2 linked regions of the Homo sapiens genome follow. The protein of the gene in region 1 interacts with the protein of each later gene in a pairwise test. Each region holds a gene or a part of one and is shown on either strand. Other genes may lie near its edges.

Region 1 (9,222 bases):
TGGAGGGACCAGCTGGAGCTGTGGCAGAGGAACATAAATTGTGAAGATTTCATTTTAATATGGACATTTATCAGTTCCCAAATAATACTTTTATAATTTCTTATGCCTGTCTTTAATCTCTTAATCCTGTTATCTTCGTAAGCTGAGGATGTACATCACCTCAGGACCACTGAGATAATTGTGTTAACTGTACAAATTGATTGTAAAACTGTGTTTGAACAATATGAAATCGGCGCACCTTGAAAAACAACAGAAAAACAGCGATTTTAGGGAACAAGGGAAGACAACCATAAGGTCTGACTGCCTGAGGGGTCGGACAAAAAGAGCCATATTTTTCTTCTTGCAGAGAGCCTATAAACGGACGTGCAAGTAGGAGAGATATTGCTAAATTATTTTCCTAGCAAGGAATATTAATATTAATACCCTGGGAAAGGAACGCATTCCTGGGGGGAGGTCTATAAACGCCCGCTCTGGGAATGTCTGTCTTATGAGGTTGAGATAAGGACTGAGATACGCCCTCGTCTCCTGCAGTACCCTCAGGCTTACTAGGGTGGGGAAAAAACTTCACCCTAGTAAATTTGTGGTCAGACCGCTTCTCTGCTCTCGAACCCTGTTTTCTGTTGTTTAAGATGTTTATCAAGACAATACGTGCACTGCTGAACATAGACCCTTATCAGTAGTTCTGCTTTTGCCCTTTGCCTTGTGATCTTTGTTGGACCCTTATCAGTAGTTCTGCTTTTGCCCTTTGCCTTGTGATCTTTGTTAGACCCTTATTAGTAGTTCTGCTTTTTGCCCTTTGAAGCATGTGATCTTTGTACCTACTCCCTGTTCTTACACCCCCTCCCCTTTTGAAACCCTTAATAAAAACTTGCTGGTCTAAGACTCAGGTGGGCATCACAGTCCTACTGATATGTGATGTCACCCCCCGGCAGCCCAGCTGTAAAATTCCTCTCTTTGTACTCTTTATTTCTCAGCTGGCCAATACTTATGGAAAATAGAAAGAACCTACGTTGAAATATTGGGGTGGGTTCCCCCCGTATCAAAACACATTTTTGCTAAGATGTTTCCTTCATCAGAATGCCTTCCCATGTACTCTGCTGGAATCCTACCCAATCTATCAAGGCATAGGCCCATCACCACCATCTTTTTGATGTGTGCCCTGATCCCCACAGCTGAAATACAACCTTGAATTGTATCACTCTTCATAGTTTAGAGAACATAATACATGTCATTTTATCCTCATAGCAGCTCTCTGAGATATCTTTATGCTCCTTCTACAAACTGAGCCCAAGTGCCCTGGCAAGGTCACTGCAGCCAACAACAGAAGTGGGGATTCAAATGCAGGTCTTCAGGCTCCAAATACCCTGTGCATACCCCATTCCACTAATGCTACCTTTAAAAACCTCTACCTCCCAGGGTGCTCTCAGGGTGATTTATATTTCAATAGCACACTAACCCCAGGTCCATTGTATATTAGAGTTGATATAAGTTGGTGAAGGGAGGGAACCTCATCTTGTTTATCCCAGTATCCCCAAAGTACTTACCATCTTCTTTACATATAGCATAAATGTATCAAGTGATCAAACTGAATTTAATTCATTGAGGGTTTTTTTTTTTTTTTGGACAAAGTCTCACTCTGTCACCCAAGCTGGAATGCAGTGGCATGATCTCGGCTCCCTGCAACCTCCACCTCATGGGTTCAAGTGATTTTCCTGCCTCAGCCTCCCAAGTAGCTGGGATTACAGGTGCCCGCCACCATGCCCAGCTAATTTTTGTATTTTTAGTAGAGCAGAGTTTTGCCATGTTGGCCAGGCTGGTCTCGAACTGCTAACCTCAGGTGATCTGCCCACCTCGCTCTCCCAAAGTGCTGGGATTACAGGCATGAGCCACTGCACCCAGCCTTCATTGAGGTTTTTTATTTTCCTTTATGGCAAATTCCAAAATTACTGCTGGAGTCAGCACCCCAGAAGCAGAACAGGGTGGAGGTTGGAAGTGTGGGGTCCTCCCTGGGCAAATCACTCAACACCTCTATGTGCCTGAGTGTCCTTATTTGTAAAATGAAGATCATAATTATGCCTTCTTCATAGGGTTGTTGTTAGGATTAAATTAAACAATGTACTTAAAATACCAAGCCAGGGCCTGGCACACTCAATATATACCAGCTATTATTATGTATTCCATTTTATGTCTCCCATGGCCAAAAATTACTGATCTCAAAATTAATTACTCCGAATCATCAAGAGAAATTTAGATACTGTGGAATGTAAATTAAGCTGCAAGGACATTTACTTAGTATATTTTATAAAGATATCCCTGGAATCCTTTTTATTTGAAAACCCCATTACATAAAACCCCTAGTTATCTGGGAAAATACTTTACACTGAGTGACTCAATTTACATTATATGAAAAAACCAGGTATTAATATTAAGGGATATACAAGTGAGATGGGCATGACGGAATTTTTTTACCTTCCCCCTTAATTTTGCAATGACTAACATTTTTCCTAAGCCAAGTACCAGGTGCTAGTCAAAAGTTTTAGCAATGAGATGTGTCTGACTCTTTGCCCTGAAGGTAAAGAACAAGCAGGGACCAGAGTCATGGACCACTTATCTACCCCTTTTAAAGGTCTGCACGAAGCACATATTCAATCTTCAAGGAATTTACAAATGATGTAGTCAAATAAATAAATACAAAGGTGTTTACAGACACTGATGACTTCACTGGAATAAACAGCGGTTACTGTGCCTGAATTTTTTTTTTTTTTTTTTTTTAGACAGAGTCTCACTCTGTCGCCCAGGCTGGAGTGCAGTGGCACGATCTCAGCTCACTGCAAGCTCCGCCTCCCGGGTTCATGCCATTCTCCTGCCTCAGCCTCCCGAGTAGCTGGGACTACAGGCACCCGCCACCACGCCCAGCTCATTTTTTTGTATTTTTAGTAGAGACGGGGTTTCACCGTGTTAGGATGGTCTCTACCTCTTGACCTCGTGATCCGCCCGCCTTGGCCTCCCAAAGTGCTGGGATTACAGGCGTGAGCCACCGCGCCCGCCAACTGTGTCTGATCTTAACAAGGCAACCGAAACACCACACCTGAGTGAGTTACACTGATTCTTACCCAGTAAAGACATGTTCGGTAAGTGAAAGCCTTTGTATGCAACAGGTCATTTCTCTTACTGGGTCATTACTGTAAAACGAGAGGGTAAGAGAAGGAATTTCTAAGATTCCTTTCAGATCCAAACTCTATGATTCTGTAATCTCTCCTGGGCCCCACGAAGATGAGGAAGGCAAGAAGGGCTGTTGTGACCCACAGCAAAGGCCAAGCAAGCAAAAGTGAAATTCTGGGCGCGGTTAAACTTAGAGCGATCAAATTAGTTTGCAGGAGTTAAGACTGCAGTCAGGGTGGTAAGGAAAAACGAGGCTGGGCAGGACTGGTACAGGACAGGCATCTTTGAACCTATTTCTGGGAGTTCTGAAACTACTGTTCTCGTGGGCCTTGGCGACTGATTTGGGAAAGCTGACCCTGGGTTGGCCTGGCTTCCAGCCACCGTCGCAACATAAACAAGCCAATTCAAAACAGGGTCGCAGTCTTTGAAACTAGCTGAGGCAACAGATCCCCTCCACACTTCGCGGGCCCCACGATCGCCCCATCAAACACCATTATCCCTCTTCCCATCACACTCCCGTCCGCCCGAGGCCGGCGGACCTGCAGCGGCGGCGGGATGGGGTTGGATAGAATGCGGCCCGGTCCCGGCCCAGCGGAGCTGGGGGAGCCGTTCCCTTCGGTCCTGTGCCCACCTTGGTACTGGGGTCCGCGTCGGAGCAGCAACTGAGGGCGGCCTCGTCCGTGAGGCCGCCGGACGGGGGCTGCGGTTCTGCCATGGCTGCGCTGCAGTATCACAGACGACGGGACCCAAGGAACGGAGGAGTCACCCACACTACGCCTCGGCCCTGTGCCGCCTTAACTAGGAATGGCGCGATGGCGCCGCGGGCGGGAGACCGCTGACTTCCAGCCAATCGCTGCGCGGAGAGCAAGTTGACTCTCTGCTGATTGGGTCCCAGTGAGTCAGCGCCTCCACCCACAGGACTATGCCTCAGACTACAACTCCCAAGGAGCCTTGCGCATAAAGGAGGCAAACTCATACAAAAAAAAAAAAAAAAATGCAGGCTGGGCAGAGTGGTTTCTCTGTTACTTAATGAGCTAATTTTGTTTGTTTAACTAAAGTTTGGTAACCATTCATACCTCAGGGCTGCAATTTGGTAGAAAATTGGAATCTGATGGAAACTGAAAACTGTAAGTTGTTCTTTTAAAATTGTAAGGATTCAGAGGTTTCTCAGTTTACGCAGCGCAGAGTAATTAAAACAATTGTTGAGTCGAAAACCTATGTTCAAGTCTTGGTTCCGCTATATATTAGCGCTAGAAACTTGCAATAATTACTGACCCTCTCTGAGCTTCCTAACAGGATTTGTTGAGAATTAAATAAGTTTTCTTTTCCTTTTTCTTTTTTCTTTTCTTTCTTTCTTTCTTTTTTTTTTTTTTTTAATTTTTTTAACAGTGTCTCGCTCTGTCGCCCAGGCTGGAGTGCAGTGGTGTGCTCTCAGCTTACTGCAGTCACTGCTGCCTCGACTTCCGGGGCTCTAGCTGTCCTCTGGCCTCAGCCTCCCGATTAGCTGAGACTACAGGCTGCAAAACCAAGACCAGTTAATTTTTGTATTTTTTTGAGATGGGGGTTTCACCATGTTGCCCAGGCTGGTCTCAACTCCTGGGCTGAAGTGACCCTCCCGCCTCAGCCTCCCAAAGTGCTGGGATTACAGGTGTAGCCACTGTGCCCAGCCTAAATGAGATTTAAGTCATGGTTTGCCTACTTAGGTTCCAAATGTCCATAACTTGCAGTACTTTTTACATTAATATATATTTTGTGTTCACTGGAAGGCTTAGTCATCACTGTGTCTTCAATGATTGGCTCATAATAGTAGATGCTCATTAAATACTTCCTGTTGTTAAAAGAATAAATGGGAATGACTGGTGCTCACCTAACCAAAATGAGGTTGGGCAGGGATGTATATGGCACTAGCCACCTGGCCACCACCAAGATGTCCCCGTCTCTCATCTCAGCTTTTTTCTGCATCGCAGCTTCAGTTTGTCAGACACCAGCTCCATAAGACTAGAAATTTGGCAGCTGTTCTCTCACTAGGAGTGGGAGTAAACTCTCCCTCTGGATTTTATCCAGCCAGCCTGGATTTTATCAAATTGGAAAATCCAAGAAGGAGCTGTGATTGGCCTGGCCTAGGACCTGTGCTTACTCCTGTGATTGAAGCACTGCGATTGGCAACCTGGATTAGGACCACCTGATTGGAGTTTGGGGAGGATCTGTTAGTTCCCTAAAAGAAGAGCGATGATGTTCTTATGAGAAGGGAGGATTGCCAGGCAAACTGAACCATGGATGTCCACTGCAAAATGATAGGCAGGATAAGGATTTCAGCAGAAATGTTGTGCATACCTCATACTAACTTACTGAGGATATTTCATCAAAACACAGTCTATTAGAACTGCAGGACTTCTATATGGAACTAGACCTTAAACCTTTTAAACTCGGGAATTGGAGCAATACACAAACTCTCCATATACTGTGTGTTACCACTGAATTATTGAAAAGACCCCCAAATTGTCTTCTTTTGCATTAATTTTCTTTTTTAGATGGAGTCTTCCTCTGTCGCCCAGGCTGGAATGCAGTGGTGTGATCTTGGCTCACTGCAACCTCCACCTCCTGGGTTCAAGCGATTCTCCTGCCTGAGCCTCCCAAGTAGCTGGGATTACAGGCACCTGCCACCATGCTGGCTAATTTTTGTATTTTTAGTAGAGACACGGTTTCACCATGTTGGCCAGGCTGGTCTCAAACTCCTGACCTCAGGTGATCCGCCCACCTCGGCCTCCCAAAGTGCTGGGATTACAGGCATGAGCCACTGTTCCCAGCCCTTTTGCACTAATCTTTCTGGTGAGCTTCTCAGACTATGTGAGATATAAAGCATGTAAATGAATAGGAAGACTCAATATCATAAAATATCAATTCATTTACTAATTAATCTGTTCATGTAATGAAATTCCAATAAAAATCCCAACAGAGTCCTTTCTTTCTTTCTTTCTTTCTTTCTTTCTTTCTTTCTTTCTTTCTTTCTTTCTTTCTTTCTTCTTTCTTTATTTGTTTCTTTCTTTATTTCTTTCTTTCTTTCTTCTTTCTTTCTTTTCTTTCTTCTTTCTTTCTTTCAAGATAGGGTCTCACTCTGTTGCCCAGTGTGGAGTGCAGTGGTGCTGTCTCAGCTCACTGCAGCCTCAACCTCTCAGGCTCCAGCAATCCACCCACCCACCCACCTCAGCCTCACAAATAGCTAAGACTATAGGCATGCACCACCAAAACCAGATAATTTATTTTATTTTAGTTTTTGTAGAGACAGCATCTCACTATGTTGCCCAGGCTGGTCTTGAACTCCTGAGCTCAAGTGATCCTCGCACTTTGGCCTCCCCAAAGTGTGATTACAGGTATGAACCACTGTGCCTGGCCCAGGGGTTTTCAATTAAAATGAACAAGCAGATTCTACATTCTATTTTTAGGGCCCCAAATAGGAAAGATATACTGAATAATAATTAAGTAGGGGAACATTCTCTACCGGATAACAAGACTTTGTACAAGCTACAGTAATTAAGACAGGATGAAAAAAAAAAAAAAGACAGTATGGTAGGGAGGCTGGCATAGATCAACAAATGGAAACTGTAGTAGACCACTCTAAGATAACCCCAATGATCCCCACCTCCGGGTCTTCACAGTCTTGTCTGCTTCCCTAACCTTGAGTATGGGCTGGATTTGGTGGCTCACTTCTGATACAAAGAGCATGATAGACATGATAAAGTGTCACTTCATGTCATTTCTGAGATTAGAGAATGAAATGTTGTGATTCTTATCTTGGGAGCTCTGTCACTTTCTTTGATCTCTCACTTGGAGGGTAAGCAAGTTGTCACGTTGTGAGCAACTCTAAGGAGAGATGCATGTGGCAAGGAACCAATGTCTCTGGTCAACAGCCAGTGAAGGCCAGACACCTGCCATCAGCTACACAGTAAAATTGCAAGTGGGTCCTTTTTCAGTAGAGCTTCAAAATGACTGCTGCTTTGGCCAACCTCTTAGTCACTGTCTTGTGAGAGACCCTGATCCAGAACTACCTAGCTGGACCATTCCCAGATTCTTAAACCACAGAAACTGTGAGATAATAAATGTTTATTGTTTTCAGCTGCTAAGTTTTGGAATAAGTTGTTGTGCATTAATAGGCAACCAATATACACACATACCATGTTTGTGTCTCTGTGTGTGTGTATATATATATAAATTTGGTATGTGTTATCTTACTGCTAGTGGGGAAAAGATTATTTTTTCAATGAATGGGGTAAGGACAATTGATTATGTATGTGATAAAAAAAGATCTCTATTTCATACCATAAAGGAAAACGTAAGTCCAAGAGGATTATAGACATAAATGTGAAAAGGCAAAACTTAAAACCTTGAAGAATAAAATATTAGAAAATGCCTTTGTGAATTCATGGTAGAAATTTCTTAATGAAGGCTGGGCGCGGTGGCTCACTAGCACTTTGGAAGGCTGAGACAGGTGGATTGCCTGAGTTCAGGAGTTTGAGACCAGCCTGGGCAACACAGTGAAACCTCGTCTCTGCTAAAATTCAAAAAATTAGCCAGGCGTGGTGGCGTGTGCTTGTAGTCCCAGCTACTCGGGAGGCTGAGGCAGGAGAATTGTTTGAACCTGGGAGGCAGGGGTTGCAGTGAGCCGAGATCGTGCCACTGCACTCCAGCCTGGGTGACAGAGCAAGACTCCATCTCCAAAAAAAAAGAAAGAAAGAAAGAAAGAAGTTTCTTAATGAGATATAAAAGCACGAAGTATAAAAGAAAGCTAAAACACACCCTAAAAGGTAAAAAGTTAAACCATAGACCAGGAGAAAGTATGGGCAACACACATAGCCAACAAAGGTTCAGTATCCAGAATATGTAAAAACTGTTAGAAATCAATGAGAAAGAGACACATAACTCGATAGAAAAAAATGGCCAAAAAGAAGAATAGGCAATTTACAAAAGAGAGAATAGAAATAGCATATATTCATATGAAAAATTGCTCCAAGTCTGCCCTACGTAGTGAAACCCCACCTCTACTAAAAGTACAAAAATTAGCCAGGTGTGGTGGCACATGCCTGTAATCCCAGCTACTTAGGAGGCTAAGGTAGGAGAATCACTTGAACCTGGGAGGTGGAGGTTGCAGTGAGGTGAGATCACGTTACTTGGGCGACAGAATGAGACCCTGTCTCAAAAAAAGGAAAGAAAGGAAAGGAAGGGAGGAAAGAAAGGAAAGGAAGGGAGGAAAGAAAGGAAAGGAAGGGAGGAAAGAAAGAAAGAGGAAGGAAGGAAGGAGGGAGGGAGGGAAGGAAGGAAGGAAGAAAGAGAGAGAGAAAGAAAGAAAGGAAGAAAGAAAGAAAGAAGGAAAGAAAGAAAGAAAGAAAGAAAGAAAGAAAGAAAGAAAGAAAGAAAGAAAGAGAGAGAGTCCGGGAGTGGGGGCTCACGCCTGTAATCCCAGCAGTTTGGGAGGCTGAGGCAGGAGGATCACGAGGTCGGGAGTTTGAGACCAGCCTGACCAACATGGTGAAACCCCGTCTGTACTAAAAATACAAAAATTAACCAGGTGTGGTGGCATGTGCCTGTAATCCCAACTACTTAGGAGGCTGAGGCAGGAGAATCACTTGAACCCGGGAGGCAGAGGTTGCAGTGAGCTGAGATCACGCCACTGCACTCCAGCCTGGGTGACAGAGTGAGACTCTGTCTCAAAAAAAGTAAAAGAAAAAAAAATTGCTCCAATTTTCTGGTAAATAGGTAAATGCAATTTAATATAGAAATGAGTTTTCTTTTATGCTCTTGAGATTGACAGAAATTAAAAAATTAAAAACCTGTCAATATCAAGTGTTGGTGTGGATGTAGAACAGCTGAAATGCATAAACACTTGCTGGTGGACACACTTTGGAAAGTAATTTGGCAGTATCTAATGAAGTTGAAGAGAGTACATCCTGGGATCCACTGCTAAGTATATATCCTAGAGGGTTATTGTGTCTGCACTCCATGAGACATATATAACAGACATGGTTTGAATGGCAAAAAAAATAAAAGAAGAAAAAAGGATAAAGC
Region 2 (6,363 bases), on another chromosome or scaffold:
TGTGAGCACTTGACTATGAAGGACACTGATGGGACAACTGGCAACTTGAACGGGGTCTGTGGGTTAGATGGTAATATACCAGTGTTAATTTCCTGGTTTTGATCACTGTGTTGTGGTTAAGTAAAAGAATGTCCTTGTTTGTAGAAATTACACACTGAAGCCTTTAAGATCATGAGACAGCACTGGCTCCATGGTTCAGGGAAAAAGGTTCTTTGTACTTTAACTTTTCCTGTAAGTTTGGAATTATTTCAAAATTTAAAAATTCAAAATAGAATCATAAAAGTAATATTTTTCATAATAAACAAGGGTAGCCTTTGTTAAAAAATCAGAAAAGCTGATATCAAAGTTCATTCTCTTATGTGGACTTAAAAATCAAAGAATAATTAGCTCCAAAAGAAAAGATTTGCCAAGTAAGATGTTTTTCTCTTACAAAATGGAAATTTAACTTCTAAATTTACTTCACATAACTTGCAAATGTAACCGGTTTTCTTACTTGGACATTTTTCATTTTACCAACTTTATTTTCTTTTGACTTTTCCAGGTATTCAGAGTTGATGTTTTTCCTAAAATAAACCACAGACTATATTTGGGACTATATAAGAGATACTAAGAAGTACAAAGGGCTCTTTCTCTTAAGTGTTATGAAAAAGACTTTGAATTTAAATAAAGCTTACAAAGAAATCATAAAACTAATTTTAAAATGCTTTTATGTAGGCAAAAGGGAAACTATAGTACTCTCACTACTTAATATTTCCAGTTCTGCCTAAAACAAAGACATACATTAATTTTTAACAATCTTTGTCTCAAAATTCTAGGAACATTTGGAAGAAGTATTTAAAGCTAATGCTTACTCTTTGCGTGAAATTTTATATAATCTCAGGAATAGAAATTTAAGAAATAGAAATCTTCTCATTTCAGTTTGCTAAGCACATTCTTCATTCTTACATATTACAGGTCCACTAGATTCAAAGGTAAGCCAAAAATACCATGCAAAAGACTGCCTCCTAAATTATTTAAATCTCTTTTGTAGCAAAATTTTCCCAGAAACTGAGGAACATCCACACAGAAATTCTTACCTTTTTATCAAAAGTTTGTTATCCTTTTCTCATTTTCTGGGCCTTTCAATGCATTGGCATTGACAAGAGTGAAAAAATTATTTGCTGTTATTTGCATATCAAACACATGGTTTCAACGTGGTATGAAACTATGTTGGTTCCAACGTGGCTGACTCCTTTGTGTCCATTAAAACCATTTTCCTCATATCTAAAGTGAATCTTGGTATCTGTGATTTATGTTTAATATAGAGATGGGAAATGGTTAGTAATCTAATACTAGTCAAGTCACATGTATTCTTAAAAAAAGCTCAAATAGTTGAATTAGGGTGATGGAAATTATACTCAAATCTGAAATTGTAATGAGGCTCCTTTCTGAAACTTAAATGACCCATTCATTTTTTTTAGGTTTAGCTTAATGTTTTTCCTCTTCATAATACCAACTGAGGTTTAACTTAATAACAAATGGTAACTATATAAGATTGTATTAAATAGTCTTGGGCTATTTTTTGGTAAGCTCTTTGATTTGGTAACTACATTCCAAAAGTTAATTATCAGTTACATGAGTTTAAATGGCATCCATAGCTGCCCCTTCACACAAACAGGTGCTCAGTAATAGGGCTTATTAGAAAGACCCTAGAAACCAAGAAACTTCAGTTCTAGTCCTCAATATAGAAGTAGCTAACAATTTTGGATAAGTCATTTAACTTCTAGTCTTTGGTTTCCATATTTATAAAATGGAGACAATATCCTATCTACTTTAATAAGGTATTATTAAAATGTTTATAATTGGATAATATATTGAAGCATTCTGAAATAATACCAGTTCGTCTTTGTTTAGCAATCTCAATTTTTCAAATTCTTAACCCTGGGATTGAAGTTATTAAAGGCACTTGTTTCTCCTTATTTAAAAGATTTATGAAAGGCTCCTACCATGGCATGCCTTGGCTCCTACGGTTTTACTTTCCCTCCACAGGAAACCTATATTGACAATTTTAGATTGTCAAAATTCTTTCTTAATGAAAGTATTAATGAGAATTATTTCATTATTCATAGTTTGGTTAAGATTTATGACAAATCACAGCCAAAAGAACTTCATTGGTAATAGCTTGTTTGAGGCTTCCTGGGGAAAATAATGATGTCAGATTTGCATTTGCAATCTTAGACTATTATAGGATATTATGCTGCATAAATCTAGATATAACTTTTATTCAGATAATTTACAAAAATTAGAACATGATTTTAAAGGTGGTATATCTCTTGTGGAGGGAAATCTTGCTGAAATTACAGCTTCTTAGGTTAACAGAGAATGTGTCCTGTTTGTGCACCTCTCTAAATGAAAGAATTAAGGAGAATTATTTCATTATTCATAGTTTGGTTTGTGGGGGTGAAAGAGGGAATGAGAAAAATCCTAAGACATCCTTGGAACAATTTAACACAAAATATACACATATATAGATCCTGAGATGTTACAACAAATTAACAATTATATAGATCAACATGATCCAAATAGTTTTCAAGACACCGTTATGGTGGGTAAACAGCCATTTTACGGCATGTGCTCCATGGATGTCCACATCATGCCAGGAAAACCATACTCTTTGTCTCCAAATTTGAAAGCTAGTCATCCAGAGCAGGTGGCCAGTCAACATCTACAGACTAGAAGGGAGAAAAGAAGTCATTAAAACAGATATTACTGTTGTGGTAAGCATTTGCTGGTAATGCTGTATAAATTTAATAGTTTTAATATAGTGCAACAGAAGAAACTGCATTTGAAGAAAAGAGCTATTGAATACCATAAATTAACCCTCAAGTCTGTTCTAGGTATTCTTGGGCCTGAGGTCTTCTGAATTAATTGAGTAGCAGTATTTGGCTACTCAGTTGGTTATTAACTGTGCTTTTTGACTGATAAGAGAATACATTTAAATTTTTTAAATGGTATTTATGGGGCCAGGTGTGGTGGCTCACACCTTTAATCCCAGCACTTTGGGAGGCCGATCAATTATATAGATCAACATGATCAAGGTGGGCAGACCACTCAAAGTCAAGAGTTCAAGACCAGCCTGGCCAACATGGCAAAACCCCGTCTCCACTAAAAATGCAAAATTTAGCCAAGCATGGTGGCACACGCCTGTAGTCCTAGCTACTCAGGAAGCTGAGGCAGGAGAACAGCTTGAGCCCAGGAGGCAGAGGTTGCAGTGAGCCGAAATCACGCCACAGCACTCCAGCCTGGGTGACAGAATGAGACCCTATCTATCTCAGAAAAAAAAAAAAAAAAAAAAGTATTTATGGGTAAAAGTAGCAAACAAATTCAAGTGACCACCAATTTTCCCTCAGAAGTCTCAGAAACTTTTATTCTTCTGATCATTTTTATTCTCTCATCTTGCATTTAACAAATATTCAAGTAGTCTATAAGCCTATAGTCTTGTTGTAACACAGCAACAAAATGTGAAATAAATGATTATGAAAGATGACCTGGAACCAGAAAAGGATTAAGGATCTTTGTGCTTCAGTTCTGTAGAATTTCTGTTTCTTTAAAATCCAGTTCATCTATCTCTACTTACCTTTATTTTGTTCTTCTAGGACAAAACCTTGATCTTTGAGTCAGAATGAAATTACAGTAAACAGACTATTTGTCTCCACATAAACACATACCAGGTCTATCAAAGGCTAGGGGATCTACTTTAAGAGAAAGTTAAAAAAAAAAAAAAACCCACCGTATCTATCTGTGGCTTTTATTGACATTTAAAGTTTAAAACATAAAATTATTTACTGAAAATTTTTTCATTAATCCATGAGTCACTTCACGTACTGGCTTCAAAAAAAATTTATTAGAAAAGCCTAAATAGCTATGTGTGTGTGTGTCTTTTACAAATCTCAAGAAGATATTTTTGTTCTGTTTCAGAATATAGCCATATACCAAACACCCAAATGTAAATTAATGAGTGTTTTCTCAAGCTGAAAATAAAACATGACTGATCACAATCTTGTGTGTGTGTGTGTGTGTGTGTGTGTGTGTGGAGGGGAGGCAAGTTGTAGTGCTTAAAAAGCTCCACAAGTGATTCCAGTGGGCAGTCAGTGTTGAGAAACACTGGCCTGTGAGTCTTTGACACTCCTAACTGTTCTGAGAATTAAAGTAAAAAAAGATTAATGCAAGCCTGGGCAACACGGTGAGACCCCATCTCAACAACAACAACAACAAAAAAACGCCAGGCATAGTGGCTCATGCCTGTGGTCCCAGCTACTCGGGAGACTGAGGCAGGGGATCGCTTGAGCCCGAGAGGTCAGGGTTGCAGTGACCCGTGATCGCACCACTGCACTCCAGCCTGGGTGACAGTGCAAGACCCTGTCTCAAAAAAAAAAAAAGATGATGAGTAGAGATTTTCTTTAACAGAAGGTTTTCTTCCTCCAAATGATAGTTTCACTGAAGAGGCTCCCTGCAACCTTGAGGGCACGATCACTGGCTGTACTGCAGGAGCTAATCTAATCCCAGAGCACTTGAGAGAATTGCTGGTAAGGAAGTAATACTCCAGTGATCATTTGATTACCATAGATGTTTTCACATTGGGCAACTATGCCCACTTCTTTCTATAACTTTGATATTATTCCCAAGTACAAATCCCCAAGTCCTAAGATTCTGGGGAGAGGAGCGGGGGAGGTACTCTATTCCTAGTCAGATTTTCATGAAGAAACACCACTCGTGACTCAACACCTATTGATACTCAAATGAAATATTTATGGAGACTTGCCCGACAGAACCATTCTTACAATTACTTTAGAATTTAACCTTGTTTCAATTCAGACTGTAAGAGCAGAGAACTTGGACCACATCACAGGGGTCCTTATAGAACTGCTTTTATGAAGAACCATTGGCTCACCTCACTTTCTACCCTTGTGAATCCATGTTTCTGAATATGCTGCTTTAAAGTCTTTATAAAACGCAACAGGTATGGAAATGACTATTTCCGTGCTTGGTTTAAGGGTTTAGATTTGATACTACATGTAAAGCACAGTTAATAAATTAGCTATATATTTTCAAGGAACATAAATGAGACCTCATATTAAAAAAAAAAATCCGAAGACAGTCCCTCCCTTCAATACAATGTTACTGTGAGATTTTCACCATTCTCAAATACCTATGGAGGTGGGTGATACTAAAATGGCTTAATGCCAAAGAGCATAACTTTGGTTGAATTCAATTTGCCAATGTGCATTCCACAACAAAATGGTTTACCTCAACATCCAGCTCCAGAATGTCTGCAGTCACATTCATCAGGGACCCAATGTTTGGCTTGGTTCTCCCGAAGTCTCCATGTACAAACTCTTTAATGTAGCTGGGGTTTGTTTAAGGAAAAAATGAAGACAGCATGCTGTACCAACTATTTGGTAAGATTTGACAGGCAAAAATAATAATAAGAGCAGAAATGTTACAAAAGAAAGGTTACTTCTGAGCTCTGACTTGTGTGTCTTAAAAAATAAGCTTTGGCAATGTGGTCCCTAGTAGCCTGGCAGCCAACATCAGAGCCTGGGAAATGTGTTTACATCAAACTTACCAAAAATCATTACTTTCTTTTTTCTTTATAGCTCATCTCCAAGTGCCAAGGTTTGGATGTGGATTTTAAAAATTAACCATAGCTCAATGCTTTTATTAAAAAACAACTTTGCCACAATTTCTATGTTATTATCTTGTTAGTCCCATTTTTTTAATAATGGCAACTGTCACCTGCCAGATGGTAGGTTTCCACAGAGCCACACAGAGAGTGATCTCAATGATGGCATTCCTTGTAACATGACCCAGAGGCAATAGGGTGGAAGGAATAATGAGACTATTAGTTTAGTCTTAATGATGGCTCTTCGGAAGGATTACCAAAGACCTACCGTCTAGTTTGCTAACATGGTTAGCAAAAGAACTAAGTTAATTCTCTCTCTCTTTCTTAAAGGGGCAACTTTGTATTTCTCTCAAAATTGTATTTCAAATTTTGAAATCAATAACTAATTCTAGAATTTGTTTTTAAGATTAACATTCCTTACATAGGACTGTACTGCAGCTTTGACAATATTTATCTAAAAGATTTGTTTTTGCCAGAATTTGGTAAAAATGCAGCATTATGTTTTGTTCTACAAACCAGCATTTAGTAGAAAATAATTAATGGAACTTGAATAGAGAAATAAATTTGTTTCCAGATGATGAAAAATCTATATTATAATATGCTGATATTATGTCCTCACTTTCTGAACGTTTTACTCACTCTACCTTTGCCAAATGTTTTGACTAAAGCATAAGACATATAATTATCTAGTAACTGTGTTT

Evidence for each region. Proteins that work in one complex are often made in the same cells at the same time.
Region 2: the proteins of GLO1 (region 1) and PUS10 interact in binary tests that used the Homo sapiens proteins (3 or more experiments, as listed by UniProt).

What each region holds. Positions count from the first base shown.
Region 1 is NC_000006.12:38,699,178-38,708,399, forward strand, and holds the start of GLO1 (lactoylglutathione lyase), read right to left. Parts: upstream 3,969-9,222; 5' UTR 3,878-3,968; coding exon 3,794-3,877; intron 1-3,793. UniProt on the Homo sapiens protein: Catalyzes the conversion of hemimercaptal, formed from methylglyoxal and glutathione, to S-lactoylglutathione. Involved in the regulation of TNF-induced transcriptional activity of NF-kappa-B. Required for normal osteoclastogenesis.
Region 2 is NC_000002.12:60,939,723-60,946,085, forward strand, and holds the end of PUS10 (tRNA pseudouridine synthase Pus10), read right to left. Parts: intron 5,387-6,363; coding exon 5,287-5,386; intron 2,712-5,286; coding exon 2,673-2,711; 3' UTR 501-2,672; downstream 1-500. UniProt on the Homo sapiens protein: Protein with different functions depending on its subcellular location: involved in miRNA processing in the nucleus and acts as a tRNA pseudouridylate synthase in the cytoplasm.